Linked DNA regions of Homo sapiens. The protein of the gene in region 1 interacts with the protein of each later gene in a pairwise test. Each region holds a gene or a part of one and is shown in the gene's direction. Other genes may lie near its edges.

Region 1 (2,605 bases):
TGGGAGGCAGAAGTTGCAGTGAGCTGAGATGGCGCCACTGCACTCCAGCCCCTGGGTGACAGAGCGAGACTCCATCTCAAAGAAACCAAAAAACCAGCTTCTGCCTTAGTGTATCAGGCTGTAATGAGGTCACCTATTCTCCAGGCCTTGGAAAAGAATCCAGGGTATTTTTTGCCCACGTGCCAAGGATTTGTCTCTAATCTTACCAGGCTACCAGTCTCTCTAGAAATGGTCCCCCAGAGCCAAGGCAAAAACAGCCCCACTCACCAGGCCCCCCAGACACCCAAATAGTCCCCTTACCATGTTGGTACCACTGTCTCAGGTTTGGGCTGAATCATAGCCTCAATGCAAAATTTCTTCTGGCCATTTCCAAAAATCAGATCTACCCTTAAAAAACAAAGATTTGGCTTTCCCTTTGTGAAGAAATGCTTCCCTCCCCCAGCTATCTCCAGTTCCTCAGCTCATCGTCTGGCACTACTGTGAGCATCACCTAGAAGGCCACTGAGATGTGCCAAGGAGAGTGGTGGGGATTTACAAACCAGTCCCCGCCCTTTATGGTAGGTGCCCTCCTGTCCTGCAGGGTCGGACCGATACCTGGAGAGCCGCGATGCCTCTCGACTGAGTGGCCGGGACCCCTCCTCATGGACAGTCGAGGATGTGATGCAGTTTGTCCGGGAAGCTGATCCTCAGCTTGGACCCCACGCTGACCTGTTTCGCAAACACGTAGGTGCTGCTGCCTGACCTCTCAGTAGGAACCTGTGTGGAGAGCCTCACCTGGTGGGGACAATACGAGATGTTTGGGGAGGAGGGATGCTTAGAGACAAAGGCTGAGGAGAACAGGTAGGCTTCAGCATCACAGCAGGTGAACTGGACTCCATGTGGCGGGCACTTCCCAGGATGGCCTATAATCAGAACCTGGGGTGGTCAGACCAACCAGGACTCTGATGGTGCCTCCCTTCCACTTCTGCCCACCTCCCCACCCCCCAGGAGATCGATGGCAAGGCCCTGCTGCTGCTGCGCAGTGACATGATGATGAAGTACATGGGCCTGAAGCTGGGGCCTGCACTCAAGCTCTCCTACCACATTGACCGGCTGAAGCAGGGCAAGTTCTGAACCAGGAGAGGCAGCCTAGACAACCAAGTGGCAGCAGGTGGGGGCATTCTTCTAGGAATGAGGGGCATCAGCCCACCCCAGGCACCTCAGTGGGGTTCCGGGCCACCTCAGGACTCCAAGAGGCTGTGTGGAGCCACCACTCCTAGCCACAGCTGCCATGATAAGTCCTTCCATGAAGGACTGAGGAGGGAGAGTGGGGGTCCAGGGCTGGTGCTGCTCTTCCCTCAGCTCTGCCGGGGCTCTAAGGTCCCTCTATTTATTTCTCAACCCTGGCTGGCCTCTCACCAGGAGTTTAGGCTGAATGCCTTCCACGTGATGGAGGAAAAGGCCAACTCTGTCCTGGTCTTGCTGTGGCACCCCATCGCCCCACAGCTCGTACCTTCTCACCAGATTCCCCTGAATCCAAACTCGTGGTGCAAACCTCTACCTTTTTTACAAAAAGATCTTATTGTTAATTTATTGTTTCTGGCACTTGGGCAAACCCTGTAGTTAATACTCCTCCCACACTAGACACTGGGTTTCAGGAGGAGGGAGACTGCCCTGCTTTGGTCCCAGAGAGGCCCTCTGCAGATAGGCGTGGCCCCTCTTCAGAGGACACTACCCTAGGGCACTTTCTCTTTGAGGTGGAGAGACCCATAAAGCCTTGACCACATCACTCCATATGGGGAGGAGAAGGATCCCTGTCACCTTCTCCTCTCTTCACGGGGCCCTTTTGCAGCCCTAGGCCTCATCTGTGGGAAGGGAGTCCCTGGCTTATACTGCCCCCACCACAGCTCCTTGCCCTGGCCAGAACTGCTGTCGAAGAAAATCAGGCCGGAAGGCCAAGAAGGCGCTAAGGGGGATGGGAGGGCAGGTTTTCCAGGCTGGAGTCGGTTCCACCCACTCGCCTGTCCACAGGCTTCCTTGTAAGCAAGTCAGCAGCACAGCTACTCACGCTGCCATCTGGACTTATTTTATGTCAATCTGTTTATAAATAAAAACCAATATAGATACCAGTGTCTTTTTAATCAGTTAACAGCCAAATCACTACGCATTCATTGGACCAGTCATTCCCCTTCTCTTGGTCTTAGTTTTCTCATACATAAAACGAGGCCGAGCACGCTGGCTCATGCCTGTAATCCCAGCACTTTGGGACGCCAAGGTGGGAGGATCTCTTGAGCTCAGGAGTTTGAGACCAGCCTGGGCAACATGGTGAAACCCCAGCTCTACAAAAAAAAAATACAAAAATTAGCCTGCTGTGGTGGCGCACACCTGTAGTCCCAGCTGCTTGGGGAGCTGAGGTGAGGGGATGGCTTGAGCCTAGGAGATCGAGGCTGCAGTGAGCCGTGTTCGCACCACTGTACTCCAGCCTAGGTGACAATTTGAGACCCTGTCTCAAATAAATAAAATGGAGAGCTTGGAAAAAATGATTCCTAAGCGTCCTTCTAATTCCAGCAGTCCCTAAAGAACAGGTGGTCTTCCGAATGTCCACCAGAGCCCCAGCATCACACAG
Region 2 (3,500 bases), on another chromosome or scaffold:
GCAGGCGGATCATGAGGTCAGGAGATTTGAGACCATCCTGGCTAACATGGTGAAACCCGATCTCTACTAAAAATACAAAAAATTAGCTGGGTGTGGTGGCATATGCCTGTAATCCCAGCTACTTGGGAGGCTGAGGCAGGAGACTCACTTGAACCCAGGAGGTGGAGGTTGCAGTGAGCTGAGATCGCGCCACTGCACTCCAGCCTGGCCTGGCAACAGAGCGAGACTGCATCTCAATAAATAAGTAAATTACTTACTTTCCTTTTATCCATCCTTTATGTTGGGGCATTATATTGATTTATTTGAAATTATGTGTGTAAGAGGGCCATATGGATTCCATTTCAGATGGTAAAGATGCACTACACATACTTGTATTGGGGGTGCATAGGGCCCACCTGGATTTATCTGAAAGGCAGCCTGGGGTTCAGTGCCAGGCCACCCAGGAGCTGATGCCCCTCAGCAAGTTGTTCCACCTTCTTTCTACTTTTCTCCTGTCCAGGGTACATTTCTTCCTGGCCTTTGCTGTCTTCTAAGGCACGCTGTGTGAGAAGGAGGAAAAAAGGGTCAGAAAAAACAAAAGCAATTGTGCAAATACTGTGTTCTTCTTAGAATGGTCATAATAACCTAACGTAGGCTCTGTGTAGGCTGGGCACGGTGGCTCATGCCTGTAATCTCAACACTTTAGGAGGCCAAAGCAGGTGAATCACTTGAGTTCAGGTGTTCGAGACCAGCCTGGTTAACATGGCAAGACCCCATTTCTACAAAAAGTGCAAAAACTAGCCGGGCGTGGTGGCACATTCCTGTGGTCCCAGCTATTTGGGAGGCTGAGGTGGGAGGATGGCTTGAGCCCGGTGGCGGAGGTTGCAATGAGCTGAGGTTGCACCACTGCACTCCATCCTGGGCGACAGAGACAGACTCTGTCTCAAAAAAAAAAAAAAAAGAGAAAGAAAAGAAAAAAAATATTAAACCTTAAACAAAAAAAAACCTAACAAGCCTATACACTGCTCTTACCCAGGCAAAATGGTTTTTAAGTATACAGTTCGGTGACATTAAGTACATTCACATAGTCGCACAGCTATCACCACCATCCATTTCCGGAACTCTTTTCATCTTCTCAGCTGAAACTCTGTACGCAGCAAACACTAACTCCACATTCCTCCCTCCCCCCACCCCAGCAACCACCATTCTACTCTCTGTCTCTATGGATTTGACAACTCTGGATACTTCATATAAATAGAATCATACAGCATTTGTCCTTTGTGACTGGCTTAATTCACTTAGCATAATGTCTTAAGGTTCATCCGTATTGTGGCATGTGTTAGAATTTCCTTATTTTTTTATTTTTATTTTTTGAGACGGAGTTTCACTCTTGTTGGCCAGGCTGGGGTGCAATGGTGCAAACTTGGCTCGCCATAACCTCTGCCTCCTGGGTTCAAGCGATTCTCCTGCCTCAGCCTCCTGAGTAGCTGGGATTACAGGCGTGCGTCACCATGCACGCCCGGCTAATTTTGTATTTTTAGTAGAGATGGGGTTTCCCCATGTTGATCAGGGTGGTCTCAAACTCCCGACCTCAGGTAATCTGCCCACCTTGGCCTCCCAGAGTGCTGGGATTACAGGCATGAGCCACCACGCCCGGCCATAATTTCCTTATTTTTAAGGCTGAGTGATATTCCATTGCATGCACACACTGCATTTTGTTTATTCATTCATCCATCCATGGACACTTGGCTTGCTTCCACCTTTTGGATATTGTGACAAATGCTGCTGTGAACACGGGTGACCAGTATCTCCTTTCAGTTTGTGTGTGTGTGTGTACGCACCCCAAGTGGACTTGCGGGATCATATGGTAATTCCCTGTTCAGTTGTTTGTGGAACCACCATGTTGTTTTCCACAGTGGCTGTAACATTTTACATTCCCACCAGCAGCCCGTGAAAGTTCTAGTTTCTCCACATCCTCGCCAACACTTGTTATTTTCTGAGTTGAGAATAGCCATCCTAATGGGTATGAAGTGGTATGGAAAGTCTTTTCAAGCATAATAGCAAAGAAAGAAATCATAAAGAAAAATGGCCAAATATAGCTACATAGTGTCTGTAAGTAAAAAAAAAAAGTAATCAAACTTAAAAGGCAACGGTAAACTGAGGAAGACATTTGTACTGTGTATGACAAGACGCCTAGCAGGGCATGGTGGGCTTTGGCAGGTCTGGTCTACACCTGCTCTTCTCCACCGGCTGTGTGCTTTGCAATACTCAATTTCTCCCAGCCTCAGTTGCCTTATCTTTAAAATGGGAATAATCATACATTCATTGGTTGTTTGAGGAGTAAGTAAGGTAATGTATGTAAAATATATGTTACATGGTAAGTCCTCCAAGAAGCCTGGCTGGTCTTCATTGTACCATCCCAGTTATCGTCTCTTTCAATTTAATATAAATAAGACAAATATATCAGGAGAAAAGTCTTGAGACGTAAGAAGTAGTTTATATGGCCAAAAAACAAATGGAAAAAAAAGAGATCATCCTCACTAATAGAGAATAATATAAATTGAACTACAGTCTTGTGATGCCTTCTTATAAAACTGTCAAAAGTTGTAAAAAAATGCTCTTTTCCAGTGAGGATAAGTGTGGCCAAATACTCTGCTGAAGAGTAAATGGATACAATTTTCTGTAAGGCATCTGGCAATGTGTAGCAAAAGCTCGTTGACCCAGAAATTTATCCTAAGGAAAAACATCAGAATTGCACACAAAGATTTATAAACAAACCTTATCAAAATGTTTCTTTATAATAGCAGAAAATTGCAATTAACTTGAATTTCTCCAAGCTGGCTAAAGAAATCATGGTGCATCCCTAGAGGGAATACTGCAGCAGCTGTTTCCAATCCTGTTCTCAGATAAGGCTGTGGGAAATTGCTCAATGCATGAAACAGGAAAGAGAAAGAAAATCACATATCAAGGATAATCCCATTTTGCATATCATGAGAAGCATACCAGCTAGGAAAAATAAACTGGAAGGAAATATATTAAAATGTTAATAGCATTTTCCTAGATGTTGAGATAGTGAATGGTTTAGATTTTCCAATTTTTATTTTGCTAGATTTGCCAAATTCTCCACAGTTTAACATGTAACACTTGCCCTTGACTCTGTCTGTGGATGAGTACAGTGATTGGGGGCGGGGGGCGTCCTTTGGACGTGGTCTCCAGGCTGCTCTTGTGGGTCCTGCTTCATCCAGCCCTCTGGCTCTTGTCCCCCACAGTGACCGATTAGCACTGCTCCAGGTCCGGGCTATCCTCCAGCAGCTAGGTCTGAATAGCACCTGCGATGACAGTATCCTCGTCAAGACAGTGTGCGGGGTGGTGTCCAGGAGGGCCGCACAGCTGTGTGGCGCAGGCATGGCTGCGGTTGTGGATAAGATCCGCGAGAACAGAGGACTGGACCGTCTGAATGTGACTGTGGGAGTGGACGGGACACTCTACAAGCTTCATCCACAGTGAGTGGGCCTTCCAGT

What was found. Proteins that work in one complex are often made in the same cells at the same time.
Region 2: the proteins of SCMH1 (region 1) and HK1 interact in a two-hybrid assay, tested with the Homo sapiens proteins (one large-scale study listed by IntAct).

What each region holds. Positions count from the first base shown.
Region 1 is NC_000001.11:41,026,702-41,029,306, reverse strand, and holds the end of SCMH1 (polycomb protein SCMH1), read left to right. Parts: intron 1-561; coding exon of another isoform or gene 562-580; coding exon 581-723; exon of another isoform or gene 724-774; intron 775-987; coding exon 988-1,113; 3' UTR 1,114-2,105; downstream 2,106-2,605. UniProt on the Homo sapiens protein: Associates with Polycomb group (PcG) multiprotein complexes; the complex class is required to maintain the transcriptionally repressive state of some genes.
Region 2 is NC_000010.11:69,395,347-69,398,846, forward strand, and holds part of HK1 (hexokinase-1), read left to right. Parts: intron 1-3,248; coding exon 3,249-3,482; intron 3,483-3,500. UniProt on the Homo sapiens protein: Catalyzes the phosphorylation of various hexoses, such as D-glucose, D-glucosamine, D-fructose, D-mannose and 2-deoxy-D-glucose, to hexose 6-phosphate (D-glucose 6-phosphate, D-glucosamine 6-phosphate, D-fructose 6-phosphate, D-mannose 6-phosphate and 2-deoxy-D-glucose 6-phosphate, respectively).